7 linked regions of the Homo sapiens genome follow. The protein of the gene in region 7 interacts with the protein of the main gene of each other region in a pairwise test. Each region holds a gene or a part of one and is shown on either strand. Other genes may lie near its edges. The genes, in order: SFT2D1, TPP2, SLC14A2, ERGIC1, cystathionine beta-synthase, EMP1 and EHHADH.

Region 1 (3,823 bases), on a different chromosome or scaffold from region 7:
CCACGCTCTGCCCCTCCATGCCACCCTCTTCCTCTGCCCCTCTGCTCCTTGTCACCCTCCCTGCAGCTGGGTGGGCTGTCCTCTATACGCCCCCTGCGGCTGGGTGAGCTGTCCTCCACACGCCCGCAGAGTCCTGTGGATGTCTCTGAAGCCCCAGTCCCCACACCTAACAACTGGGAACATGTCTGTCTCCCCCATAATCGTAAAGTCTTTGAAGACAAGGACGTCTGTTGCATCTTCCTTGAGCACCAAGCACAGTGTCCGCCCACTCACCAGAACTCACTCTTTTCCTGCACCTTCTTTTCCAAGCGCGTGCCTGACTTCCAGGGTCCTAAGGCCTGACCCTGGCTCCCTGCCAGCTTAGTCTCCCTCCCCACCCCAGCCCACTCCTGGATTTCAGCCACACCTGATGACCTGAACAAGGTCCGGCCACCACCACCCAGTGCTACACAAGATCCCTTCTGCCCATCTGCCTGCTGCCCCTCAAGGACATCCCCCTCAGCTCTCCTCTAAGCTGACTGTGCATAAAATGCTGCTCCCATTACCCTGTTGTATGCTCTTTATTAACTCTCCCTACCCTGGACAGACATAGAGCCGCCTTCCCTCCTGCTGGCACCACATCATGCTGGCACCCGCCTATCTGCCTCTCCCTGGCAACTGAGGAGACCAGGACAGCCAGTGGGAGACTTGCAGGGAGGAGGAGGGCGCTGGCTAGTTCTCCGCCCTCTCTGCTTCTCCTCCAGCCTGGGGTGAAGGTAGCTTCCTGCTGCCACTACTGTCCAGTGGCCTGACTTCTCCTGACACCCTCACAGTCAATGCCGCCTCACCTCCTCCCCCTGCACTTCCTGGAATGGGCTCTGCTGTCAGTCCCATTATCTCTCACAATTTGTATTTAACAGTATTATTTAGGGGAGAGACTGTATCTTCCTCATTTTTCTACAGAGAGACTGTATAGTGCCTAAACTAAATATTATTGAATTGAGTCACTTAAAATATTATAAATTTGATTCAGAAAATGTTATTTTTCCAAGGATGGGTTTATTTCAAAATTGTAAAGATTTATATATTATTTTTATTACATATAATAAGCAATTTTTAGCTTAAAATAAGTTTCACATTTAAAGTAAAAAAAATCTTAAAAATGCAGACATTTTTTAAAAGCAAAAAAGTTTAATTATCTTGCAGCACAGGTCTACCTTTAAATATTCACATTTCAAAGCTGCTTTGAAAAGATTTAAAAATTGGCTAAAAATAATTTACAACTGGCAGTGATTAAAAATCTTATCTTTGGAAAAGTATATTAATGACACATAATGAATTTAAAGTTACAAGCATTTAATGGTTTAATCAAGCATGTAGTTTTTACCAGTATACAAAATGAGACTTAGTACAAAACGGTCTTCAACTGTCACGTCAGTTGTTCCTGGAGTGTTTTATGGGGAAAAGCAAACTTCACCAAACATAGAGTACCAACATTCAAGTGCTCTTTTCCACAAGTTTCTGATTTTCAACTTAGGAGAGAAGAACAGCATTTAATAACTGCATCCCTGGTGGAAAAGAGAGGGAAAAAAACAGAATATAATATTCCTCAAAAGCAAAGTTGCGCAAAATGTTCCTGCTAAATCACCTTTTTTAACAGAACTCAATGGATGCTCCAACACACTTTTTGATTAATAAAAACTTTGTTCAGTATCATTTAAGATTAAGAGCTAAGATTTGAAAACATTTTGCTGATTTTTGACATGGTATTTATCTTAAGAAATTTTTACTGGCATATACACTGATCTCAATCAAAGAAATAAGTTTAAATACCAAAAATAACCTAACAAAAGATCTAACTTTTTTCTTTTTTTTTCCTTTTGAGACAGGTTCTCACTCTGTCTTCCAGGATAAGTGCAGTGGCGTGAGCAGATCCTCCCACCTCAGCCTCCCAAGGAGCTGGGACTATAGGGCACACCACTACACTAATTTTTTTTTTTTTTTTTTTAATAGAGATAGGGTCTTGCTATGATGCCCAAGCTGGTCTCAAACTCCTGCGCTCAAGCCATCCACCCGTCTCAGCCTCCCAAAATGCTGGGATTACAGGGATGAGCCACCAAGCCCAGCCCAAAGATTTAATTTTTAAAAAGAACTAGGCCAGGCAAGGTGGCTCACGCCTGTAAGGCAGGTGGATCACTTGAGGTCAGGAGTTCAAGACCAGCCTGGCCAACATGGTGAAACCCCATCTCTACTAAAAAACACAAAAATTAGCTGGGCGTGGCAGCGGCAGCACGTGCCTGTAATCCCAGCTACTCAGGAGGCTGAGCCAGGAGAAACTCTTGAACTTGGGAGGTGGAGGTTGCAGTGAGCAGAGATCACGCCATTGTACTCCAGCCTGGGTGACAAAATGAGACTCCATCTCAAAAAAAAAAAAGAACTAATGAACTGAGTTTCAAAACTGTAATGTTTATAACTGAATCCTCAGAATTAAAAGAAGATTGAAGTGTGACCTTTCATATTTTCTTCCAAAACTGTTATTACTTGATACTTCATTCATTAAAAAAGCTTTTACCTAGGCCATAAAAAATATCCACTAATAAAATTCTTATAGGCAAAATCTGTACATTGCTTATTGCTCTCGAGTGTGGGATCCTGTGTCTGGAGAGGCTGGTCATGTTCTTGAAGTCCTGCCATCTCTTCAGAGCCTCTTGTATGGGACATCACGTCTAGAGGTCCTTTCCTCCGCACCAAGAAGTATTGGAGGTCTCCTTGCTCTAAAGTTCCTATGCATGGTAAATTACCCTTGCACACTCCTGTTAAGCAGCTTTCTCACCTGTAGCTAACTTTGTTTTGCTTTTTCTCCTTGTAAGTATCTATCAGAAAGAATCATACATTTGAAATGGAATAAAAATAAAATTTCTACCAATTTCCTTCACTGTTCGTATTAAAGACAATTTTGCTGTTTTTAAATATATAACATATCTTTGAATTTCACAAACAGGCAAAGCTGTGCCTCACCAGAATCTTTTTCTAAATCTATCAGATTTAAAATTGGAACTAGTTTTGTTTTCTCCTCCACGGCTAAATACATTTCTCTGGAAAAATATTTTAAAATGCCGGTTACCTCTTGACATACAATTAAAATGTTTTTGCTGACCAAAAATAAGCATTTATGTGTAAGCCCTCATTTTCCCAGTAACTTCCTTTTTTATTGAGATGGAGTCTGGCTCTGTCACCAAGGCTGGAGTGCAGTGGCACGATCTTGGCTCACTGCAACCTCTGCCTCCTGGGTTCAAGTGATTCTCCCACCTCAGCCTCCCAAGTAGCTGGGATTACAGGCGCCCACACCACACCCAGCTAATTTTGTATTTTTTAGTAGAAACGAGGTTTTGCCATGTTGGCCAGGCTGGTCTTGAACTCCTGACCTCAAGTGATCTGCCCACCTTGGCCTCCCAAAGTGCTAGGATTACAGGTGTGAGCCACCGCACCCAGCCGTAACTTCCTTTTCTTAAGTAGAATTTGTTTTCCTGGAGTCTCTGTGTCCTATTTTCTGAACTCCTAAAGCCATGGAAGGGTCCAGAATCTCATCCACATTCCCTAGTGCACGCCAGGCAGCAGGGCGGGAGGATACTCCCCACAGAGCTGCTCCATGTCGCCAAAATGTTTCCATACAGACATTATCATGGCAAGCTGCTATTCATCTCATTGAAAACATGTTTACTGCCGGGCGCGGTGGCTCACGGTTGTAATCCCAGCACTTTGGGAGGCTGAGGCGGTAGGATCACAAAGTCAGGAGATTGAGACCATCCTGGCCAACATGGTGAAATCCCGTCTCTACTAAAAT
Region 2 (4,164 bases), on a different chromosome or scaffold from region 7:
AGAACACCCAAGCTAATTCAAGGGAACTGAAGCAAGGCGCAATGCCGTGGCTCATAAAACCAGGTGTGCAGAGAGCTCTCAGAACCTAGTCAGTTGCTAAGAATACAAAATCTAGTGTTATGACAATATTTCTAATTATTTGAAATAAAACTAAGACTGTTAAATTCTCTTAACTACTTGCATTCTAGATCATTTGATAATTTTTATTTAAAAAAACAAATTATTTTCAATACCAACCTAAACCAATCATAAATCAGTGCCATTTATCACTAAACAAGTACCCAATTCAGTATTAATTAACCATAGATTTGTATTCTTTAATTTACCAGTGCACATTTTACCAGAGCCTGGAGCTCTACAAGTCCCAGGGGCCCTATGAGAATGGGACCCCAGGAATGCTGAACACAGCAACTCTGACTCCACCCTCTAGAAGTACTGTCAAGTGTGAGCGTAATCCCAACGAAGACAAGCTATGTACCAAGTACTATAAAATCCCTAATCCTTACAACAGACTAACGACTATATTTACAGTTGAAACAGAAGTCCAGAAAATTTAGAAACCTGCCCCCAGGTAACCATTAGCGTATGGCAGAGTGTGGATCCAAACCCAGACTTCTCAATTTCCAAAGCCCGTGGCCTTGCCGCTACTCTGTGCTGCCTCCCTCTAATCCAGTTCTCTTAACTGCAATATCTTGGACTAGATGCTCTCAAGGCCTCTGGAAGCAGGGTCCTTGTCTAAGTAGCTCACCACCTTAGCCCACTGAAAAGGGCCTGGCACAGATGGTACAGAAAAATATGCTTAATGAATGAGTGTAGTACAACCCGATTATCCTCAGAAGCCTCTCACTGCTGCAATAGCTCCATTATAAACCAGTGTGCAAATTAACAGGCTATATTGGGTGCTGTTCAATTCACTGCTTTAGCTCTCAGCTTTTGCTATTATTTTGCCTTTACCTAATTACAAAAAACAAGAAAAGTCTGGTATTTCCTGTGATACCAGGTGACAAACAGATGGACAGCATACAGATAGATGACCAGAAAATGGTATGGGGAACCAAATACAACCAGTTATTCCCAAACCAAGTCATACATGTGTGATTTCAATATTTCATTTTCAATAAAGTCTCAGATGTAAATATATCTGTACTTTCATACAAGTACAAAAAACACACTCCTAAGTAAAATACAAGCCATTTTTACTAATGACACCTATCTACCTTATAGGGTTCTGACGGGACTAGACAAGATAATCTCTGTAAAGTGCTTAGCAGAGGGGCCAAATCCAAGAAGTATCAACAATGCTGGCTACTAATTTAAATTGGGTGACACTTTCTTGACTGCCCGTATTTGCTTCCTTCTATCAATGGGAGTGAGCTCTGACAACTGACATACCCTTCTATACTGACTGCTAAATTGTAAATTTAGGACACACAACTTGTGAAGGAAAATATGGTACACCCACAGCTCTTGTAAAAAAGAATGACATGAGCACTCTCACAGGACTATAACATGTTAATTCAAGAGCTTTGTGTTAGGCAATCATTTACTCTCAAAATTTCAGAGACACTGAAGTGAAAATCTTCTATAAACAGAGCTTCAAAGATTAAAGCTCTATTTCTAAAATTCTGAGAGTTTAACAGTTTGAGGTTTAAGCAACAGCTGCATTGTTTAAACTGATTTGTAGTATTTTAAAAATTAGGCCGGGCACAGTTGCTCATGCCTGTAATCCCAGCACTTTGGGAGGACGAGGCGAGTGTATCACGAGGTCAAGAGATCGAGACCATCCTAGCCAACATGGTGAAACCTCGTGTCTACTAAAAATACAAAAAATAGCCTGGCGTGGTAGCACACGCCTGCTAGTCCAAGCTACTCGGGAGGCTGAGGAAGGAGAATCGTTTGAACTGGGGAGGTGGAGGTTGCAGTGAGCCGAGATCATGCCACTGCACTCCAGCCTGGCGACAGAGTGAGACTCTGTCTCAAAAAAAAAAAAAAAAAAAAAAAAAAAATTATTACCAGGTAAGGCATTATTCTAAACTAAGCTCAAACCTTAAATATTAAAAACATCTTAAGATGGCTTAATTTCCTGTATGGGCCAATGCAAAATTGTACTAGATCTTAAAAACGTTTTGAACTTTACAGAAAGTCTAAGGTACCCAAATACATATATTAGTACCAGGGAAATACATGCTACAGATAAACGAACCTCATACAGCTATAGTCATTAGAACGTAAACAGAGATAAGCGGTCACACAGATTTTAATTTTACCTACCAGCCCATGTTGCACCCTCAGGAACCTCAATAAAATGCCTTCGAATTTGACCAGGTTTAAAGTGTACATCTGTAAAGGCTAGATCATAATGTGATGATTCATTTACTCTGAAAATTAATAAAAGTAATTAAATGTATATATTTATTATAAGACCACAGATACTCTAGATTTCATTGGATAAACGCAAAATAACAATTCATTGGAAATAAACACAGGGACTTAGAAGCTGGTTACAAAACAGTAGGTACGATATTGTTCAATTTTTGCAGTAGGTTAGCAGAGATAACCTCTGAATAGCAGAGTATAGATGATTCTACTTTTTGCCTATTTTATGATTTGTAAGATACATTCACACACACTATTAAAAAAGCATTCTCTTTTTTGTTAAAGGCATTCTACAACATTCACAGAATTTTCCAATTACCAGATTCCAAACTACAGTGAGTCCTAGATATTAAAATCAATGATAAAGTTTTATGTCACTGGTATTATAGCTATGAGACTTGTGTTAAATTAAGCTCCTCCTGTAGCTTCAAAACACTCCCATGATGTAAAACAGTAAAGAAAGGCAAACTACTTTCAAAGCACTTTTGTAAGAAATCAATGAAATAAAGTTCAAATGCATAACTACCCACCACGGAAACAAATTTTATGCTAGAGACAAATTCTTGTCAGTAGGACAAACGGTTAAATGAGTGCCTACTACATGAGGCCCTGTTATTAGGAGCTAGAAACGTAACAAAGAAGAAAATATGATTCTTTAACCTAGACAATCTAGCATGGAGAGAATCATCATCAGAGACATTTAACATAAGATGCTCCAGATAGACAAGAAGAGTTACGGAGCCTGGGAAGCTTCCTGAAGGAGATGGCGTGGCAGCTGACTCCTGAAGGTCTTACACATTACCTGGTCTAAATTACTACTGGACTTCGAGGGAATATACGGCTGAGAATTTAACTGTTGCACAATTTTTCCACATGTATACCACTTTTTAAATTTATTCTCCTCAATTTCATCCTGTGTTTCTCATGGGCTGAGATCTATTGCATACTTAATATTTACCAGAGTAACAGAACTGTTAGTTTAGAATTTCCACTTGGTTTCCAGTACTCTCACAATCCCAATCTCACCTTCATCCACTAGATAATTTATTTTATACATCCTGTATAACAGTAGTCTCTGTGCCTTCGGTGGGCTCACAGTGAAAGAGTGTAAGTTAAATAAAAAATTACAATATATTGGCTAAAGTCTGTCCAGGGGCACGTAAAATGTGCCACGAAGCAGAAAGAAGGGACTCCCTTCACCCAGGGATGACCAGGAATGCACCTGGTCATTAACTGAAGAGACAGGAAATTGAAACCAAGTTATCAGCTGTGCACATGCACAAATCCTGAGAATCCTCAAGTGCCAAAATCAGTGAGTTGGCCAAAATGTGTAATTTGGTGTACGGAATGACAGGAAACACTGGCTAGGGCTATAATTGTGAGGGAGCATTGTTTGCTATTTTAAGGAGCTTGAACTTGACCTTTGGAGGTGCCACTGATATACTTTAAGCAGGAAGTAATATAATCTGCTGATTTTTCCTTGGTTCCAGAGGAATAAGATGGGAAGTTAAGAGTTTCTTAACTTCTGCTTCTACAGTAGATAACTAGAAAAGTGGAAGCATTAAGAGAAGAGAGTAAATCCCAAAAACGACAGAGACAAAAAGGGCAGGAATGGAGGGGAGTGAAGTAATATTGTCAAATACTACAGTGGGATCGGGTCAGACGAAGCCTGAGTTATCCTCTGAACTGGGCAATGCAGAGCTCAGAGTGACTGTGGTGGAAATAGTTTTGATGCAGAGGTAGGGCAGATGCCAGGTGCCATCAGTTACTCTCAGAGCACACAAGAGT
Region 3 (4,164 bases), on a different chromosome or scaffold from region 7:
CTCCAGCCCTGGGTGAGGTCCAGTCCTGGGCAGATCCACCCAGGGTGAGGGTGAATGAGTGAGGGAGAAGCTTTGGACCAAACCGGAGAGAGGGTTGTCTCTCTGGCCTGGCCTGGTCTGGCTGCCTCTCCCCAGGGTATTTTCCTACCTTTCAGCCAGATCCTGTACTCCTTCATGTCGCCCGTGAGGTAGCCCACTGCTTTGGAGAGGCAGATGCACCTTTGGCCTGCTGAGTCCCGATGGGCCACCCCGTCGTCTTTCCTTTTACTCCTTTCATTGAGCTTTTCGATCTTCACAATGTGACTGTCTTCATTGGAAGACCGGAGATCCTTTTAGGAGAAACCAACCAGACATCAAATGATACAGCTTTCTGAGAGCAGGGACATTTGGGGATAGAGGAGGGTGGCAGGTTTTTTGATAAAAATAAAGGATCATGAGACAAAGGGTGGAACACATGCCCATTGTCTGCGGCTGCATAGAGTGCCCCGTACAAGCCTGTTCTTCCCAGGACCATGCACCTTCTTCACAGCAGGATTTCTTCACCTTTGTGCCATGGATCTCTTTTGGCAGTTTAATGAAGCCCATGAGCTTCTTTTCAGAATAATGTTTGTAAATGCAAAGATCAGATAAATAGGACGGCAAACCAAGCCAATTATACTGAAATGCAGTTATAATCTTACTAAAAATTAAGATACACATGTATGCACAGCAGATCCAATACCTTCTGTAATTTCAAAGTAGTGATGAGTAAAGATATGGGACCTCCTCATCGCAAGTCAGGACAGCTCTGGAAGGCCATCCCAGCAGTCTTGAGTCCCTCTCTACTGCAGCAGTGGCCAGCCAGTCTACCTCTGTGCTACCACCGAGGATGCTAATGGCCTGCATTTCAACAAAGGCCTTCCCTTTGGAGACAGTAGGGTAGTTCAAGGGAGCAGGTTTAAGGGGAAAGATTTTAGAGACTGATTGAAAGACTGGTGAGTGAGTGTCTGTATTCTGTACTTGTCCTTAAAATCATGTCTCATGAAGAGCCACATTATCTAAGGCCAGGTAGGACCCACCATGGGTGTCACCATGTACTGACAGTGGCACTTCCTCAGTGTGCTAAGTTCACTGGGAAGGTGGGAAAGCGGCATCTTTTGCCCCCACTTTTCCCATCCCCTCCCTCCCAGGAAACATCCTAGGAGGGACACTTCTCACCTTTTCTTCAGGCATTTCCAGGAGGGGCAGAGCTGGGTGAGTATCCGGGGATGTCGAGGGCCAGCTCGGGCTGGTAAACTCTGCCTCGTAGAGTTTGTATCTGCTGGAAAGTGGCTCTGGCAGGAGAGGACTGCTGTGGGGGTCAGACATTCCTTCGGGTCACAGCCACTCTTCTATCGATGGACTAGACGGAAGGAAAGGGAAAGAGCTAGTGAGTCAGGACGGGGCCCAGAGGGACTTGGCTGAGGCTGGACTCAGACCTCAGGTCTGTCCTGGGGGTTGGACAGTGACACACGTGGGATCTACAGCTTGTGCTGTAGAGTTGAGGACATTTCTCTACCTCATTACCTTTCAAAATCCTCCCATTCTTCCGCGTCCAGAAGAATGTCCATTTGGCCGATGAAGATATCCCTGACCACTGAGTCAGAATGGAAGTCTCTCTTTTTCTCTTGATCACTGAGTGTTTTTTCTCTGCCTTTCATATTGCCTGCTGTGCCGTCCTATTGTGGTAGTTAGTGGTACACGTATGTTCCCCTTGATACGTACACACAGATCCAGTACTGATTGGAGGTGGGGGGTGTCTAAGAGAAACTCTTCCTGAATTTCTATGGAGGCTACATTGCTTACAACTGATCTCCAGTCTTCCTTCTCTTCCCTCTACCATTTCCAGCTCCTTCCCTCTTTCCCTTCCCTAGGAACAGTAGGAAGCACTGGTCTATTCTTCCATGAGCTGTGTGCATCCCAGCTGAAGGAGCTTCCCTTCCACATGGGGCTCCTGTCCCCGTACCACCAGGGTCAGGGCTTATGCCATGACTTGCTTTTGGAACATCCTTTGCCTGAGGTCCTCAGTTTCCTGGTTTTGTCTGGCTTCCCCTTGGTAGTGCTGTACTCTCTCCTTCCCATACAGCCATTTGTGCATTTCTTCTCTAGCCTCCTCCAGCTCAGTTATATCTTTTTATTTATTTATTTGAGAGGTGGTTTTGGACCTGCATGCGGTCTCCTCTCAGTATGACCTAGAGCTTTCCCCATTGCTCCGTGCTCCATGCTGCATCCCTTCAGTGTAGGACCGTCTCTCTTAGGACAGGGATCACAGATCCCTAACATGGGTACTACCATTCCGTATACTCATCATTCCAGACACCGCTCAAGGATTGCAGGATTCCCTTCAAAAGGGGATAAAGTCCCCTATCTAATTTTGCATTAGTTCCATTTCGCTAGGCTATTACCTCTCCTCCTCCTAATGAGAGGAATTCTTACTCTCCACAATTTCTTCTGAGCACCACTCACCTTGCTTGGGCAGAAACCCTTCTTCTTTGAGGCTTATCTCAAATGGCCATACCATCCTCTCCAACTGCCCACTGCTGCGTTACTGACTCTCTGGTCACTCTGTCATTCAGAGAAGACTTGAAGTGCTCCTACTAATCATCTTCATCCCCCTCCAGTAACTTTAAGCAGCTTCGATGTCCAGGCAGATAACTCATCATCCTGTTCTCTGGCTTCTCAGATCCTTGTCCTTCTCATCTCCAGTGAACCTTTTCATCTCCCCTTTTCAGCAACTGATTTCCACAGTCCCAGCATGGGCTTAATATCACACACACTGGAAATCTCAAAAGTCAGATCTCTCCTCTGGCCACTTCCTCTTGCACATTTGGCTCACCTGCTCAGGTGACCCCTCTGACAGCCCTTCAGCTCCCACAACCACCTGTCTTCCCTTCCCTCCTTGACCAACTTAACTTCATGGCCCCTTATGTTACTTCCTCCAACTCTCTTGCACCTGTCTCCCTCCCTCATGCTTGTATGGTGAAATTCCAGCCGGGATAAACCCAAATGCCTAACTTTTCCATGCTTTCACCAAACAACTGAACATGGCTAGAGAACAAGGGTAATAACCGAGTAGATTGCTTTCACTGTAAGTTGGATTGCTGTCCTCAGGTGAACACTAGGTGCTTCCCTTTTCTCTCTTTAGTCCAGCTCAGTCTGCTTTCTGCTATGGCTGCCTTTGCTGTGGTCTCTAAGGCCTCCATGGCAAGTCCACTTTCAGTCCCCATCCCACCAGGCTGCTCAGTGGTGTTCTGAGAGTTGATCACCCTCTTTGACACACTCTTTGGCCGTTATATCTGCTCCCCTCTCTGGTTGCTCCTTCACACTCTCTTTTGGCGGCTCTTCTTCGTGTAACAGGAGCATTTTGCAGACCCCTGTTCCGGGCCCTCTTCTCAGCCCTGGTGCTCCTACCCAGGTGACGTCAGCCCTCAGCATGGCTTCGTATTCCATCTCCCTGCCGATGACCCTCAAAACTCACATTTCCAGCCCAGTTTTGAGCAGTGGATTAACAGATTTAGTTGTCTACTTTACACTCACATATAGACGTTCCAAGTGCCTTAATTTGCCAAAACAACTCATCATGTTGCCTTCCCAAATCCTATCCTCCCTCACAGGTGACCACCTAGGAAAAGTCATCTTCCCCTTCCAAGCCATTCCTTCAGAAAACTCAGGAGTCACACTTAATGCTCCCTTCTTCTTACTCTCTAAATTTAACAATTCTGTCTCTAAAAAATATGCCTTCACGTTCATGGTCACCAGTTAGCCACCATCACCTCTTACCACATCTTCAATGACTTTCATTTGGATATCCCTACTTTTTCCCAGGTTTCTCCTCAAAGCCATGCCCCGCAGGGAAGAGTTGCCATATTAATCTCATGTTGGATCCCTGCTTAAAGCCCATCAATGCTTTCAGATGGAAAACTACCTCTTTGACAGGGTGTGCAAGGCTCTGAGCTGCCACTGTGCTTTAGTGAGTCCCTTGCTTTCTGGCTCCATGACTCCAGGCCCCATGCTGGCCTCCTTTTAGTACTTGTAAGGTGTTGAACACTTTCCACCTCAGGGCCTCTGCAAGTGCTGGTTCATTGGCATGAAGACCTTTCCCTCACTCTTCCTGGTCAACCCCTACACTTCTGCCAGGCTTTGTCT
Region 4 (4,164 bases), on a different chromosome or scaffold from region 7:
GCCTGTACCATTATTTGATCAACATCTGTCTTCCCCCCTAGACTGGAAGCTCCAGGTGGGCAGGGACCATGTTTGTCCTCACCAAGGTATGCAAGGCCTGGACACGGTAGGTACTTTGTAAATATTTGTTGACTAGATGGATGGACAGAAAATGAATGGATGGATGGGCCCTAAGCTAAGTTCTGTACATTTTTTTAAAAAAATCAGATTTCCACCCCACTAATGACTAAACTTGGGACTGTAGTTTCTGTGTCCTTCTGTTTTGCCCCTGCACGTGGCAATGCGAGACCGCTGCTCCTCTCCCCTCCACCTGCCTCGGTCTGGGCCCTTCCCTCACCTCCCTGCCTATAGTCTTGCCTCCTGGGTCCATCTTCCTCATTGCAGATGGGTGCTCTGAGTCACCAACCAGACCTTCAGTCTCCACCTTCCTCAGTCTACCACGGGTCTCTCGCACCCCACACACCCCACCTGCCGGCTCCCATTTCAGGCAAGTGCTCTGGGCCCTCTCAGCTGCCAAGCGAGCCCTTGTGCCCTGGACCATCTCGGCACAGAACATGCCGTGTCACATACGCTTACTGATCCATTTTTCTGAAAGTAACCTTGAGGGTCTTTCACATGAAAACCACCAGCTGGGCGCTCTAGGAGAGGGGTGATGTTTGAGACGCCCCCTGCCTAGGACCCATTTCCCTGTTCTGTTCCTGGTGAAACCCTTCTTACCCTTCCAGGCTTGGCTTAGATGTCACCTTAACGGTAACTCTTCCTAGTGCCCAGAGAGGGCAGAGGGCACTGGGTGACAGAGCCCCTGAAGGCCCACCCCCGGCCATGCCATCTCGAGTGTCCCCTGCTCACCTGTAGCGTGTCCCCAAAGGAGAGCTTGTGGATGACATGCGTCATGTCTGGGTTCTGTGGCTGGGCTGTGGCACTGTGTGTGGACACGTGGAAGTTGCCGGGGACCTGGGGGAGAAATGTGAGTTTCAGGAGTTTGGTTGACTTCTCCAGGGGGCGGAACATTGGGGCCTCACCCTGTGTGATCCAGGGAGGACACTGGAATCAGGCAGATCTGGGTTTGGATCCTGCTTGTATCATTTTCAACTGTGCAAAGGAGTCACCCCATCTCTCTGGGCCTCAGGCTCCTCATCTGCAGAATGGGGGCACTACCATAGCTTCCGAGGGGGCTGCCAGGACTATCTGGTGAGAGGGTGCATGTGAAGTGCCCATCTGGGCGACGGGCACAAAGCCAGGACTCATGGCAGCTGCTCCCCCTCCAGCTCTGTGGATTCTGGGCGGCTGACCCCACAGTCAGCTGGGGGATGACCTTTGAGCTTGCAGACTAATGGGGATTCCTCAGACTCCAAACCCCTATCATTTCCTACCCAAGTTTGCCCCAGTGCCCTAGACGGGGGATCCCTGATGGACAGACTGTGGTAGCCTCATCTCTTCCCTGGGTCTCAAGCCCTCGCAGAGCCAAGCCAGCAAGAGGTGCTGGATGAGTATTTACAGAACAAAGGATGCTGGTGACAACCATGTGGCAGGAGCCACTGCAGCTTCTCCTTGTTTCAGCACGAAGTCCCTCCTCCTCCCCCTCCTCCCCCTCCTCCTCCCAGATGCTTAGACTAGAACCCTTAGTATGATCCTGGAACCCTCCTCCTCCTCCCAGATGCTCAGACTAGAACCCTTGGTATGATCCTGGAACCCTCCTCCCTCCTCCCAGATGCTCAGACTAGAACCCTTGGTATGATCCTGGAACCCTCCTCCTCCTCCTCCTCCCAGATGCTCAGACTAGAACCCTTGGTATGATCCTGGAACCCTCCTCCTCCTCCTCCTCCCAGATGCTCAGACTAGAACCCTTGGTATGATCCTGGAACCCTCCTCCTCCTCCTCCTCCTAGATGCTCAGACTAGAACCCTTGGTATGATCCTGGAACCCCCCTTTCTCACTCCCGACGTCCCATCCATCAGCTGAAACCCTGTTAGCTCCACCTTCCAAACACACCTGGCGCCTGACCTCTTCTCTGCTGCCCTGGTCCAAGGTCGTCTCTTCATGGACAACAATGGCAGGCTCCTCCCTGGGCTCCCAGCTTCCATGTTCCCCACAGCCTGGGCCTTTTCCCAATAATGACTGTTAAGATCTTTTTAAACCCTACATCAGATCTCATCACTCCTCTGCCCAGAACCCTCCACGGCTTCTATTCTCTCAGAGTCCAGGTCCATGTCCTCGTGGTGGCCCACAGGCCACATCTGGCCGCTGGCCAAGCATCGTGTCCCCACCGCTTGGCCTCCTGCTGCTGTGTCCTCTGCTGCTTCCTGTCTGGTCTCCTGCCGTGCCGGGAACAGCATCCAGTGTGGCCCCATTTTAGGCCTTTGTGCCTGCACCCCTTCCTGGGACCCTCTTCCACATGGCCCTCCCTCGGACCCTCAGGGCCCAACAGAGAGGCCCTCCACGTCCACCTGTGCAAAAGAGCACCCTGGCCCCCATTCCCCATCCCCTTACCTGCTACAGCCTCTGGGATCACCTGCCATCTCATACCCATCCTGTTCTCGTCTGCCTCCTCCCATTAGCATGTCCACGCCCTGCTGTGCTCCCCAGACTCCGACACATAGCAGGTGCTCAATAGACACTTTTTGAATGAATGAATGACTAAACAAACAACACTGAATCCTTTGACTTTGTCATCTGATAATTCCCATTTTACAGAAAAGAAAATGGAGGCTCAGAGCAGTGAAGAAACTTGCTAAGGTCACATGTCGAGAGCTGCAGTCTCAGCTCACGTCTGTTGGACGCACTGCTCCCTCCTCTGATGCCTGGATGCCATCTACCTCCGCAGCCTGGGCTGATGGCCACATGGCGCCAGTCCTTCAGGAGATGCCGGAACTGGGGAGATGAGCAGACAAGAATCTGGCCTTGGCCAAGCCCCTGTGACACAGACTTGGAACAGACAATGAGACTCTGTGGGATCCACCCTGGCCCAGAGGAATTTGCAGACCATGGGGGTTACAGGGAAGGCCCCCGGCTCAATTGAGGGTGCAGGCTGTATTCAGGGAGGGCTTCCCAGGGGGAAGGACATCCTGTGTTAAGGCTCTGAAGATGAGTCTGCATTACTCAGGAAGAGAGCGAAAGGCATCTGGGCAGAGGGAACAGCATGAACAGGTGCAGAGGACAGAAACTTCCCAGCATGTGGGCTGTCTAAGGAACTAAGAGTCTGGTATTATTGAACTCCAAATGAGACGGAGGTGGCGGTGCTGGCAGCAGCAGGAAACAAAGAGGCACAAGGGAGGAGTTGGGGCTGTTTATCAAAGGTCCCCAGATGCCACACTGAAAAACTCGGGGGTTACCTTATTCCAGCCCAATGAAGAAGACTGTGCGAGCTGTGTCCGAGGAGGGAATATAGCTTATCGTGCAGCAGCCCATCAAAGTCTGATTTTGTAAGCATGTCTGTTTCAAACACAAAGTTGGGGACTTCCTGCAGGAATATTCCTACTTCAGCAGGGCCCGAGCTTGTGGCTGACAGGGGAGGCATCAAGCTGACAGCCTGTAGCCTCGGCCTCAGCAAACTCGCAGTGGAGCGAGCTGCAGGCTACAGTGGAGAAGGGACACTTGCTGGGTCAGGAGTGGAGCAGAAACAAAGGCGTGGCAAGATCTCCCTCGAGGGACAGCATCGCCTGCTTCAGGGACCCAATAACCCATAGTAGAGCGGTTGCTCTGAGTTCTACACTTGGCCCCAAGCCCAGCCCCACTTCCTAGCTGGGGAGCCTTAGGCGAGGTCAGTAACCACTCCATGCCTCAGTTTCTCCATCAGCGAAATGGGCGTAAAGCCAGAAGATTACTGGGAGGATTCATTGAGGTGATGCATACAAAGCAGCCCGCAGCTGGCCTCAGATCGGGTTTGTAGGGTGAACATGTTTGTCATCGGAGCCAACCAAGAAGGGCCCTCCCGGAAGAGGGAACACTCACAGGCAGGGCGTGAGGAAAAGCCCACTGTGGGTTTTAACATTTATGCCTCATTTTCACCGATAAAAATAATGCCTGGGTACATTTTCATGATAAAACAGTCATGAGACACAGTCAGACTAAAGACCCTGTTGCTGACCACCCCTGGGAGTAAGAAACCCACAGCCATAAGGCGTGTGTCCTCCCAGAGGTTTTCTACGCAGTGACACAGGGCCT
Region 5 (4,164 bases), on a different chromosome or scaffold from region 7:
AGAACTGCTGTCTTACACATGCAGGTCGGTGGCTGACTGAGGGTGCGCCCCCAGCCATCCCCAGTGCCCCCTAGCCATCTCTGCCTTCCCCATACCCCCGTGCCCGCCACCCACTCACCGCACAGCAGCCCCTCTTGCGCGATCAGCATGCGGGCAAAGGTGAACGCCTCCTCATCGTTGCTCTTGAACCACTTGTCCACCACCTGAGCAGGACCCCACCACAGCCCGTCAGCGTGGGAGCCGCTCCCACGTGACCAAGAGGGTGAACAGCCTCATGGTGGACCCCGTGTCTAGGCGGTAGGACCCCAGAGGTCTCACCCCAGCCTCTCCCCCTGGGATCGGCACGTCTGCAGACTTTCCAGTTCCAACACGTTTTGCAGACAGCAAAACTGCCCGCCAGCCCCACTGAGCATCCGTGTGACCCACACCGGCCCTTCGGTCTCTGCTCTCCCTCAGGCCAAAGTCAGCTTTTTGGCTCTTAACAGACTTTTCCGGGGCCTTAATTTTCACACGTTTTCCCTGCTCCCTGCCTGTGCCACCTGGGCTACATCCCTTGGTGAGGTCAGGCCACGTGTGCGGACATCGTCCCCCAGTCTACTTTGTCTCGACCTTCGAGACCAGCTTCTCACCATGCGTGCGGGGCTTGCCCTTCTGTTTCAGTGGAGAAGCTGGTTGGGGCCCAGGGTCAGCCAGGCTCCCCAGTGTGAGGGTGAGTTACAGGCTGCACCGGCACTGTGGCCGGGCTCTGGACTCGACCTACCGTCCTGTCCAGCACCGTGGGGATGAAGTCGTAGCCGATCCCTTCCACCTCGTAGGTTGTCTGCTCCGTCTGGTTCAGCTCCTCCGGCTCTGCGAGGATGGACCCTTCGGGATCCACCCCAATGATCTGCAGAGGGCGCGGCTTCAGGGCTCAAGGCCAGCAAAAGCCCCGCCTGGACATGCCTCGATATTCTATTATGGGAGTGGCCAATACCGCCGTTAACAACTGCCTGTTAATGATCTGCCTGTGGGTGGTGGCCTGTTCCCAGCCTCAGAGGCAGGATGAGAAACCCAAGAACCCAGGCTCCAAGTATTAAAGCGGTAATGACCTAAATGTTCAGTGCAGGGCGCTCAGAAGTAAAGGCAGGTGCCTGGGAGGAACTGACCTCCCCGGGGTGCTTCTCGGAGCGGGGCCCCCAGGACAGTCCAGACAGACCACCCTGCGGCGGAGCAGCAGAGCCTTTGGGGACAAAGGGCATTGCTGGGCAGTGACGTCTTTTTCAAGGGCAAGCAACAGGGAGAGAACGCCCTTGTCTCATCAGCGGGACCTTTCTAGGCACCCGTCCTCAGACCTGCTCTTAACCCCGAGTCCAGGAACCCTCTCCCAACTCCCACAAGCCCCAGTTGAGGGGCAGACTCAGGACCAGAGGACTTAGAGCTCCTGGCTGATCCTCAGAGGCCCCCAGTTGGAACTCCGACCCCCCACTCAGTGCAGGAAGGTTCTCCAAGACACTGGCCGGTGAGCGAGCACCCAGCCCCAGCTCCTTCGGGTCACGAGCTGCTGGTCCCTTATGTGTCAAGCACCCTTGTCTTCCCAAACACCTCCCAGGCAGCGCAGAAATACCGCGGGAGACAGCGTGCTGAGCAGACCGTGAGGAATGACAGCTTTCAGCTCAGAAGCCGGGGCCACTCCGCACTGCCCCTCTCCGGCCCGGCCACACCACTCACCCTGCATCCAGGACACTTCTCCTTCAGCTTCCTGGCAATGCCCGTGATGGTGCCGCCCGTGCCCACTGAAGCCACCAGCATGTCCAGCTTCCCTGGTGGACGGATAACATTCTTGGGTCCCTGCCTGGCCAGCCCATCACTCATAGTAATAATCATTGAAAACACACTCAGCCCAAACCACGGTGGGTAACCAAAAAGTTCAAAAGAAAAACTTCTTCTCCAGTTGGAGCAGCCCTCGTTGCTGCCCTTGGTCTGTGAAAGCCTCAGAAACAGGCAGCCTGGGGCACCCCAGCCCAGTCTTTGCTCAGTGACACTCGACCCCTAAAACCCCCATTTGGCTGGATGCAGAAAGACAGGACCCTGTCCGGGGGGTGCAGGCGCTGAGGGCGGGCAGAGGGAGGCTGTGAATTAACCACCTCCGTGGGCTGTTGGATGTTTGCGTGGTGTGAGTGAGTTAACTGAATTTACACAGGAAATGGAATCAGTCTTTTAGGCTTCAGCGCAGAAACTCGCTGGGCGCTCACACTGCTGGCCGCCAGCGCGGGCATCTGGTGGAGAAGTCACAGCAGGGAAAGACTCAGCGAGACGGAGCAGCTTGGGCACCCATGCTGAGACAGGACTGTTTTTGCCAAATGAGAGAGTTCTCACACATAAAGCCCAAACAACCAAATGCCTGGACCTTACAGCCCGGCTCCTGGGCACGGACTGAGGGTGTACTCCAGCCCATGCCAACACCGGATTCCCAATAGGAAGCCAGGGCGCCAACCTCTTGGCAACTTATCTCTAAAGGGATCTCTTGGGAAAACCTCAGTACCAACCCCCACAGGCCTTGGCACCGAGTCCCTGGAAAAGGGCCCAAGGAGCCGGCCTCATGCTTGTAACAGAGAGTGAGCTCATCGCAGATGTCACCAGCTCTGTTCTGCAGATGAATTTGATGCCGAGTCAGGGCATGATCCCAAATGAAGTCCAAGCTGTGAGCCCAGCACCAGCCTGGGCCCTGAACAGACTCGCTGTCTGCATTATCTGCAGGAGGAGCCCCTGCAGACCTGCAGAGATTGCTGGGTAAACAAATACAGCCATGCCCTGTGTTTGCTATTACAGGTAAACCACAGGCGGAGGCCAAGAGGGCACAACGGAGGGAGGAAATTGTTCTAGAGAAATGCTCTAGAAAAGCATTTCACAGAGGGAACATTTGAGCTGGGTTCTGAAGGGTGAATAGGAGTTCACCAAGGAGAGGGCAAGAGATGTGTACACTCCCAGGCAGCCAGGGATAAATGCAATCAAGATGGACAGAGGGACGCACCATCACACTGCTGCAGGATCTCATCAGCGGTGGTGTCATAGTGAGCCAGGGGGTTGCTGGCGTTGCGGTACTGCATAGAAAGAGAGCAGAGCCCGTGAGCTGACCCCTGACACCTCAGTCACCCCCACATCCCTGACCGAGACCCTCCTAGGGAATGCCTGTCTCCAGGCCCCAGGTGCCTCACCTGGTCTAGGATGTGAGAATTGGGGATTTCGTTCTTCAGCCGCCAGGCCACCCCCACGTGTGACTCCGGGGAGTCGAACCTGGCATTGGTGGGCGTCCTCACAATCTCAGCCCCCAGTGCCCGCAGCACGTCCACCTGCAGGAGGGAAAGCGGTGGCCTGCACCTTCCGCCTGGCCCAGGCACCCTCATCCCCTGCCCTATGACCCCGCCCCTGGCCACGCCCACCCACCTTCTCGGAGCTCATCTTCTCTGGCATCACGATGATGCAGCGATAGCCCCTCACTGCCGCAGCCAGGGCCAGCCCGATCCCTGAGGGCACACAGAGGGTGAGAGGGGCCCAGTGACCCCCCAAGCCCTGCCCCGCCCCTGCCTGGGACACAGGGGCACACCCCGATGCCGGTTCCCTTAGGGCCCAGGGAAGAGGGTTCTGTGGGATTCCAAAATTGCCCAACATGGCTGCTTCTGCCTTCAAGTGCAGGGGGAGAGAGGCTGCCAGAGGCAGAAATAAAAGGTACACGTCAAGGAGGAGGAGGCAGCGGCGCAGGACAGGAGATCTGGTTCCTCCAGGCCCAGCCGGGTACACAGGCACAGGAAGAGCAGACTCCGGGTGCTCGTCTTGTGTGCCAGGCACTGCCAGGTGCCATCGCCCCGAGAGCATCGGCACTGGCCCCGAATGCTGGTCAAAGGAAGCTAGGTTGGGACACAGGCCGGCAGCGGGTGCAAGATGCCAGGGAGCAGGCGGCCAGGCGGGCCAGCACATGCGGCTGCAGCTCATCCATCCCCCCCGGGTCCCGGCAGGCTCGGCATGGGTAGGGGACAGCCAGCCCCGGCCACCCCCTCTGGGCCTGGCACCCACCGGTGTTCCCGGATGTCGGCTCGATAATCGTGTCCCCGGGCTTCAGCGTCCCGTCGCGCTCAGCATCCTCAATCATCCGCAGGCTGATGCGGTCCTTCACGCTCCCGCCCGCGT
Region 6 (4,164 bases), on a different chromosome or scaffold from region 7:
AGATGATAGAGAGAATCATGAAGGCCTGCACTGTCTTGAGGGCATCTGTAGACACAGGACGAGGAGAACAAGGGCATGAGGTCACTCCAGGGGCTGAACATTCCCTGACCACACCTATTGTCAGCACTGGGTCAATATCTTTATATATACCTTCACTGGCATATGACAGGCTGTCACTGCAGCTAATGTTGGTACAGTTTTTCCAAAGACCTACTGATGCATCTACCGTATTGGAAACCAACCAGACCTGAAACCAGAAGGAAAGAAAATGTTAATTGAAAGCTGGCCCTCTGATTTAAAAATAAAATAACAAATCAGCTTGCATCGGGATCAGATTTTAATAAAGACATTCTATTTAGCTATAACTATGGCTATGCAGCTTATCTGTGGGCGGAAATAAGGTCCGATTAAAACTGAAGTTCACAAAGTTGCCAAGAGAAGAGACACAGAAGAATGTGAAACCCAGAAAGAAATCACCTAGCCCTCTTTGGGCTCCACATTCTTCACGACTTAACAAAAATGGAAGTAACTCAACCACAGTGGTTTAAAATTCTAAGGTTCTGAGAAACAGAAGTCCAGGATGAGGAAACTGGCTTAGGTATGTGCAGTTCATATACTCTAACAAGATTGTTTCATTTAAGTCCCTGGTTAACCAGGAAAAAAGTGAAATGTCCAACTGGAAACAATTAAGAAACATAAGACCTACTGGGAAAATAACAATGAATCTAGTGGTTAATAAGCCACTTTCATCTAAACAGAAGGATCAAACTTGACTGTCACAACATGCAAAGTAATTTGATAGTAAAATACTACAGCAAGTGCTTTCCTGTAGGGGCTACTAAAAGCTGAAGGGTGACCTGAATGGATTCCCCCAGACTGATCATGGTGCCGCCATCCCTTCCTGCCTGGCCCAAGAAAAGGAATTATCCTTCTGGAAGAGAAAACAAGTGCAGTGTCCTGTCTACACACACACAAATGCACACACTGGAAAGGTGGGGCCGGGAACATGCATCACCTACGCCAATCCCTGCTCTTCATTCAATAAACAACTGTGTGCCTAGCCTTATATTAGGGGCTGGTAATTCACAGATACGCAGCGCTTTGGCGCTCATTAATACACTTTGAAGAAGCTTATCAGATTTATCTGGATAGATATAGGAGTTGACATATAGAATGGCTAAATTACAAAACAAGGAGGTCACGTGGGCGGGGGTTGTCTTATCACAGTTATTCTTAATTAGCCTTGCTTATGATCACACCCACTAATGTTTGCAAAGCTCTTCTATCTGAACTTTAAAACTCACTTATACTTTAACTGTGATAGGGACCTAAACAGATTCTGAAACCATGGTTTGCCTGCCTAGTGATTGGTGGCCTTGGTTTTTAGGTCCAAGGAGCTGGCTTTTTTCTGAGAAAAGCACAAGTAAAAGCAAATTGGGCGCTGTAAGCCACCACTAGAGGTCAGAGTAGCCCAGGGTTCAGAGAGAAAAGACACTACCTCCATTTTTTTTTTCTCGTTTTGTCTGAGTTAGTTAATTCAGTGGCACTGGGTTAATCTTGCAAAACTCCACTTTCACATGCTACTCTTTGCTCAAAATTTGAATTTGTCAGTCTGGCATCCTCTTCTTCCCATCTATCCTTCTAATCAAGCTTCTCAGAAGGAGGGGAAGTTCGGCTCCAGCCACATAGGTGTGTGTCCTCCTTATCCTCTGACCAAAGCTTGTCCTTCCTACATATGCTCCTTTGCTAGCACTCCCACCTGAATGCATCCCTATGATCCTTCCACCTTCCCTCTTTCACTAAGAGAAACCTCAGCCATCTACCACTCCTCCAGGTTCACCTCAAGCTCCACTCACCCCTGCTGCTGGGAAGGCTCTTCTAGAGACCGAAGAAGCTGCACTAGATCCTCCAGCCCTTAACCACCTACAGCTCTGGCAGGATTACTCCTGTGGACATTCACTTTTATCCTCCTGTTATTTAATTGTTTGAAGGGCAAGCGTGTGTTTATTTTGTTTTCCCACAACTGAGCTGTAAGTTCATGAAGGGCAAGGGCTGTGGCTTAAACTTCTTTTGTGCACTTGATGTAAATATTCGAATGATTTCTCAATGAATGAATGAACAAAAGAACATTACTCACATTGGCAATGGTGCTAACAAATAGCATAATAACAGTAGCGATGTGGACCACAAAGATACCAGCCAGCAATACCAACATGTTGGCTCTTTTTTTTTTGGTAACTTGTGAGCAAAGAGAGTTCTGAAAAGAAAAAGAAAGGGACAAAAACGGTTACTGTCAGATTCAATAAGACGACTCAGCTTTCCCACACGTGTGGGCTATCTGCTAACATGAGGAAGAGCTGCACTAAAAACCATCACAATCTAATCATAAATTCCTGAAAACACCCCTGTAACCTAGTTCTGATTTGCCTAAGTGCCTATTCATCCAGTTATACATACCTACATGGAAACAGAATTTGGTTTCTTCTTGGGTATTTACATATTCATTTCTCTAATACATTCTATTTCAAAAAAGGAACAAGAACATTTTATGATAACTGTTCGTATTTTATTTTGTTTGTGTTTTAGAGGTTAAAAATAGGACTTTGATTTTCAAAGAAGTAGGCCTTTATAATTTCCAGGTCTCTGAACAATGTCATATAAATGTCCATTTTCCACTAGGAAAATGTCCATGCTTTCATCAAATTGCTCACCCAGCACTTTTAATAGAAGTAAATGCCTTCTGAAGAATAGCAGCTATTACTCAATGCCCATATACTGAATAGGCTACTAATATGATCCTGGGCGAGATATAAAATGTGAGAGGCACAATTCTATTATTATAATGCTGTTTGGTTTTCAATAATTATAACAACCTAATTACAGTTTAATGGTCTGGTCACCCTGTGACTGAGCATTTCAGACTAGTATTACTACACCTGAGCCTTTGGGCTCTGTGTGCCTCATGGCAGGAAGCCTGCCATTGGTCTGGGCAGAGAGTCATATTTTCCACAGCTCAATGTGATGGTTCTGGGGGCTTTAAAAGTAATGCAACTTGAGATAGCACCAAATGTGCCTTCTCCTTGTACATGACATTTACACAAATTCCAATCCTTCAGGACTCAATACAGAAGACAGGCAAATGCATAAATCACAGGGTGGGAGGATTGGGAACTAATATCGATTAAGAATGTGCATGGATAAACAAAAGCTTTCAGCCATAATCACAGCAGAGAAGGGAGCCCATTGATCATAAAGCCTAGGAAATAAAGGAAGTGTGAAGGATACACATGGGGGAGGCTATTCTGATTTATGTCAGCTACAGAAGGAGAGCTTTGTCATGCCTAAGACTGTCACAAAGCAGTGCAGGCTCAGAGGGACATCAAAAGGAAAGGGCTTGAGGTTATTCACACCCTAGACAGAATGGATGTGTGGATGCCCCAACCAAGGGAGGAGATGGCCAGGCGCATCCTGCAATTGTTCCACTGCCCTCTCTCACTCCACCTAATTTAATTGATGCTTTGAATGTGCTTGAGGCACTTTCATGCCACATCAGGTATTTATTAGAGAGCACTGATACTATAATTCCAACACTTCACATGCCTTTTATCTCCTCTCACTGTCTTTATCAGGCAACCAAAAATCTAGAGTGATCTAATATACATCAGGGTGCCTTGCTCTCTGCAAGCAAGGAATGAGAGGCAGACAATGGCTTCCACCATTCTCCCTGACCGTCTCCAACAGCCCCTTCCCAATCTGGCCACTTCCTTCCAACCCAGGCTGTTTTTTAGGAATGTGTCCAACTTAACTGTGAATGCAAAAATTATGACGTTTATCCTGCCTCTTCAGGGGAGAGGTTGGAGCTTTCATGTCTGCTATTAGTAATCCCCCCACACATTCAAATTCATTTTTGCTTTTCTCAGGTTCTAGCACACCTCCCCAATTTTCTGCTTGACTTAAATGCACAGTAAAAAGAGATTTTTGAATCAGACAGAGGATGAATTAGAATCATATCCAGTTATTTGACCGCTCATCTGTTTCCTCATTTAGAAAGTGGAAGTCGCAATGTCAATTGCAAAGGGAAATGTGAGGATGAATTCAGATTGTTTATGTAAAACACCTAGTGTCTGACACATGGCAGCTACTAATAATGGGGTTGCTTTAGCT
Region 7 (3,127 bases):
GTAGCTGGGACTACAGGTGCTTCTACCACACCCGGCTAATTTTGTGTATTTTTAGTAGAGGTGGGGCTTCACCGTTTTAGCCAGGATGGTCTCGATCTCCTGACCTCATGATCCACCTGCCTTGGCCTCCCAAAGTGCTGGGATTACAGGCGTGAGTCACTGCGCCTGGTCGGGTCATGATACTTTTTAGAATATGATGTGAGATATGGTACCTTTTCCAAGAAATGTACTCAGATACATGTACACAAACTTTATCATAACATTTCAGGGGTTATTGACTCATAAAACCTATTCATAGACCCTCTAGTTTCAAAATCTCAATCTAGGCCAAGCGTGGTGGCTCACGCCTGTAATCCCAGCACTTTGGGAGGCCGAGGCAGGTGGATCATGACGTCAGGAGATTGAGATCATCCTGGCTAACATGGTGAAACCCTGTCTCTACTGAAACATACAAAAAATTAGGCAGGCGTGGTGGCGGGCACCTGTAGTCCCAGCTACTCAGGAGGCTGAGGCAGGAGAATGGTGTGAACCTGGGAGGCAGAGCTTTCAGCGTGCTGAGATAGCGCCACTGCACTCCAGCCTGGGCGACAGAGCAAGACTCCAGTCAGAAAAAAACAAAAACAAAAACAAAAAAACAAAAAAAACCCCCTTAATCTAGAGGCCACTGTAGGGTGAAAATAAGTTGTAAGAACTCAAAATTAATTCCAGGTTTGAAGAAAAAGTTAGTGGGTTTTTTTTAACACTGATTTGAAAGCAAGTCACTTTGGAGACAAAATTACTACTTTCAGGAATCATTTTTATTGATGTCTTTAATTTCACAAACCAAATTATATAAAATTAAGTAGTACACATTTCAAACATAATAATTGTGCTCTGTACAATTCAAGGCACACTTGGATTTTTTGTTGGTTTTTTGTTTGCTTTTTAACAACGGAAAACTTATACTCCATTCAAGATTTTTCCATCAGAACTTTAATCATTTTATTTGGGTTCACAGGTGAAAATATTGTGAAAGTTCATTTACACCACAATGAAGGATAACATCTTCAGCCCCATTTATTTACTAACAACTTTATTGAGATATAATTCACATACCATATAATTCACCCACTTAAAATATACAACTCAATGGTTTTTAATATATTGTTATGTGACCATTACCACAATAAGTTTAGACCATTTTCATGAACCATAAAGAAATCCTGTACCCATTAGATGAATCCTGTACTCCCCATTCATCACCCCCAATTCTAGCCTTAGGCAACCACTAATGTACGGAAAGTATTTTTTGTAGAGACAGGGTTTTGCTATGTTGCCCAGGCTGGTCTCAAATTTCTGGCCTCAAACAATCCTCCTGCCTCAGCCTCCCAAAGTGCTGGGATTACAGGTGTGAGCCACTGTGCCTGGCCCTTTATTTCTTTTTATGGCTGAATAATATAGTCCATTGTATGGATATACCAGATTTGGTTTATCTATTCATTAGTTCATAGACATTTGGGTTGTATTCAGCTTTTGGCCATTATGAATAATTCTGCTATAAATATTTGTGTACAAGTTTTTGTATTGACCAGCCCCTTAATTTTTAACTACACAAGGCAAAAAGTAAAAAGAGAAGAACTCTTACAACAAAATCATACAAAATATGTTTTGCAACAATTTTAGATTTTTCAAGATTCAACCATTTCCATATGTAACATCACAGAGGCTTGTCATGACAGGAAAACTGGTGTCATTACTCTATCACAGAATTGGGAAATCCTAGAAGGTTAGATGTTCTCTAAGACCCTTCTTACACTAAGTTAACGACTTACTACTTTCTATTATTTCTCCATAAACAGAAGAGGAAAGACCAGAAGAGGAAAGGCTTGCCACACTAACCTAAGTTCCCTGTGCTGGTTTGAAGTACTCAGTTCCCTTACCAATTTCCAACTGTCTTTTTCCTACAACTTTAATGTTTGTTGAGTGTATGTATGATTCATAAGATTTCTGATCAATACTATGTGTGTGACATTGAAAGGAGTCAAAATGAATGTATGACTTAGCTGCATTTATCATTTATTAATTGATGACACATTTATCCAATGATAAAAGCATTTGAGAATCTCAACTTATGCCTGAGCCTCTTTCATTAGCTATTATGGTATTATATTCACACAAGTTCATGCATTGAATTTATCTGATAAGGACAGATTCAGAGGCATAGGAAGCACATTCCTAAAGATTTGACCATTAGAGTCGTTACACAGAAGATTCTAATGATTATTTATTTTGCTTTGTATTTCAGAACAATCTTACTTTGGATTTTTGATTTAATTTCACTGAAATTCAGTCAGCATTACCTGATGCTAGCATGTGAGGCATAATCTGGAAGACTGAATCACAATTTACTGCTAGGGGAGCCTGCCAAGCTTTGCCATTCTTTCAGGGGAGGGTTTCCCTGAGAAGCCAGTTTTTTTAGATAGTCACTTGGCTCCAGTTGGGGAATATCAGGGTTCTGCCTGTAATATTTCTGCAATTTCTCTAGAACTGTGGGCAACCCAACTGTGGAAGCATAGAACATGGGCCCGCCCTTGTGCCTTGGCCATCCATATCCATGTAAATAGACAACATCAATGTGCTCTGGGCTAGCAGCTATCCCTTCTCCCAAGATACGGAATGCTTCATTGATAAGTGAATATAAGCAGCGTTCAAGGATCTCATCCTGGCTAATGGTACGTGGTTCAATGTGATGGGTTTTTCTATACCGTGATAGGAATTTGGAAAGCCAGGGATCAGGTTTGTGAATCCTACCCAATGGCTTGTCATATTGATACCAACCCTTACCTGTCTTCTGGCCAAATCGTCCTAATTCACAGAGCACATCAGGAATTGGGCAGTACCTCCTATTACCCCTTTTTCGGGCAGGAGTTCCTGGAAGCAATGTAGGTCCAGTAAGACCTTGCCCCTTTCTAGATTTCCAGCCCACATCCAACCCAGCAAGATCAGACACTCTAAAAGGTCCCATTTTAAAACCAAACTCTTCCAGCACCTGATCTACCTCCTCTGGTTTGCTGCCTTCTTCTAACAAGAAATATGCCTGATTGTAGTAAGGATTCAACATTCGATTCCCCACAAATCCAAAACAGTT

What was found.
Region 1: the proteins of EHHADH (region 7) and SFT2D1 interact in binary tests that used the Homo sapiens proteins (3 or more experiments, as listed by UniProt).
Region 2: the proteins of EHHADH (region 7) and TPP2 interact in binary tests that used the Homo sapiens proteins (3 or more experiments, as listed by UniProt).
Region 3: the proteins of EHHADH (region 7) and SLC14A2 interact in binary tests that used the Homo sapiens proteins (3 or more experiments, as listed by UniProt).
Region 4: the proteins of EHHADH (region 7) and ERGIC1 interact in binary tests that used the Homo sapiens proteins (3 or more experiments, as listed by UniProt).
Region 5: the proteins of EHHADH (region 7) and cystathionine beta-synthase interact in binary tests that used the Homo sapiens proteins (3 or more experiments, as listed by UniProt).
Region 6: the proteins of EHHADH (region 7) and EMP1 interact in binary tests that used the Homo sapiens proteins (3 or more experiments, as listed by UniProt).

The regions. Positions count from the first base shown.
Region 1 is NC_000006.12:166,318,710-166,322,532, forward strand, and holds the end of SFT2D1 (vesicle transport protein SFT2A), read right to left. Parts: intron 1,548-3,823; coding exon 1,508-1,547; 3' UTR 1,019-1,507; downstream 1-1,018. UniProt on the Homo sapiens protein: May be involved in fusion of retrograde transport vesicles derived from an endocytic compartment with the Golgi complex.
Region 2 is NC_000013.11:102,638,484-102,642,647, reverse strand, and holds part of TPP2 (tripeptidyl-peptidase 2), read right to left. Parts: intron 2,379-4,164; coding exon 2,272-2,378; intron 1-2,271. UniProt on the Homo sapiens protein: Cytosolic tripeptidyl-peptidase that releases N-terminal tripeptides from polypeptides and is a component of the proteolytic cascade acting downstream of the 26S proteasome in the ubiquitin-proteasome pathway.
Region 3 is NC_000018.10:45,621,848-45,626,011, reverse strand, and holds part of SLC14A2 (urea transporter 2), read right to left. Parts: intron 1,382-4,164; 5' UTR 1,348-1,381; coding exon 1,198-1,347; intron 330-1,197; coding exon 149-329; intron 1-148.
Region 4 is NC_000005.10:172,920,795-172,924,958, reverse strand, and holds part of ERGIC1 (endoplasmic reticulum-Golgi intermediate compartment protein 1), read right to left. Parts: exon of another isoform or gene 3,433-4,164; coding exon of another isoform or gene 3,334-3,432; exon of another isoform or gene 2,872-3,333; coding exon of another isoform or gene 2,856-2,871; exon of another isoform or gene 2,657-2,855; intron 955-2,656; coding exon 850-954; intron 1-849. UniProt on the Homo sapiens protein: Possible role in transport between endoplasmic reticulum and Golgi.
Region 5 is NC_000021.9:6,453,871-6,458,034, forward strand, and holds part of cystathionine beta-synthase, read right to left. Parts: coding exon 4,051-4,164; intron 3,504-4,050; coding exon 3,424-3,503; intron 3,330-3,423; coding exon 3,195-3,329; intron 3,081-3,194; coding exon 3,011-3,080; intron 1,800-3,010; coding exon 1,708-1,799; intron 887-1,707; coding exon 761-886; intron 204-760; coding exon 119-203; intron 1-118. UniProt on the Homo sapiens protein: Hydro-lyase catalyzing the first step of the transsulfuration pathway, where the hydroxyl group of L-serine is displaced by L-homocysteine in a beta-replacement reaction to form L-cystathionine, the precursor of L-cysteine.
Region 6 is NC_000012.12:13,209,562-13,213,725, reverse strand, and holds part of EMP1 (epithelial membrane protein 1), read right to left. Parts: intron 2,258-4,164; 5' UTR 2,216-2,257; coding exon 2,138-2,215; intron 248-2,137; coding exon 151-247; intron 46-150; coding exon 1-45.
Region 7 is NC_000003.12:185,189,849-185,192,975, forward strand, and holds the end of EHHADH (peroxisomal bifunctional enzyme), read right to left. Parts: coding exon 2,378-3,127; 3' UTR 776-2,377; downstream 1-775. UniProt on the Homo sapiens protein: Peroxisomal trifunctional enzyme possessing 2-enoyl-CoA hydratase, 3-hydroxyacyl-CoA dehydrogenase, and delta 3, delta 2-enoyl-CoA isomerase activities. Catalyzes two of the four reactions of the long chain fatty acids peroxisomal beta-oxidation pathway.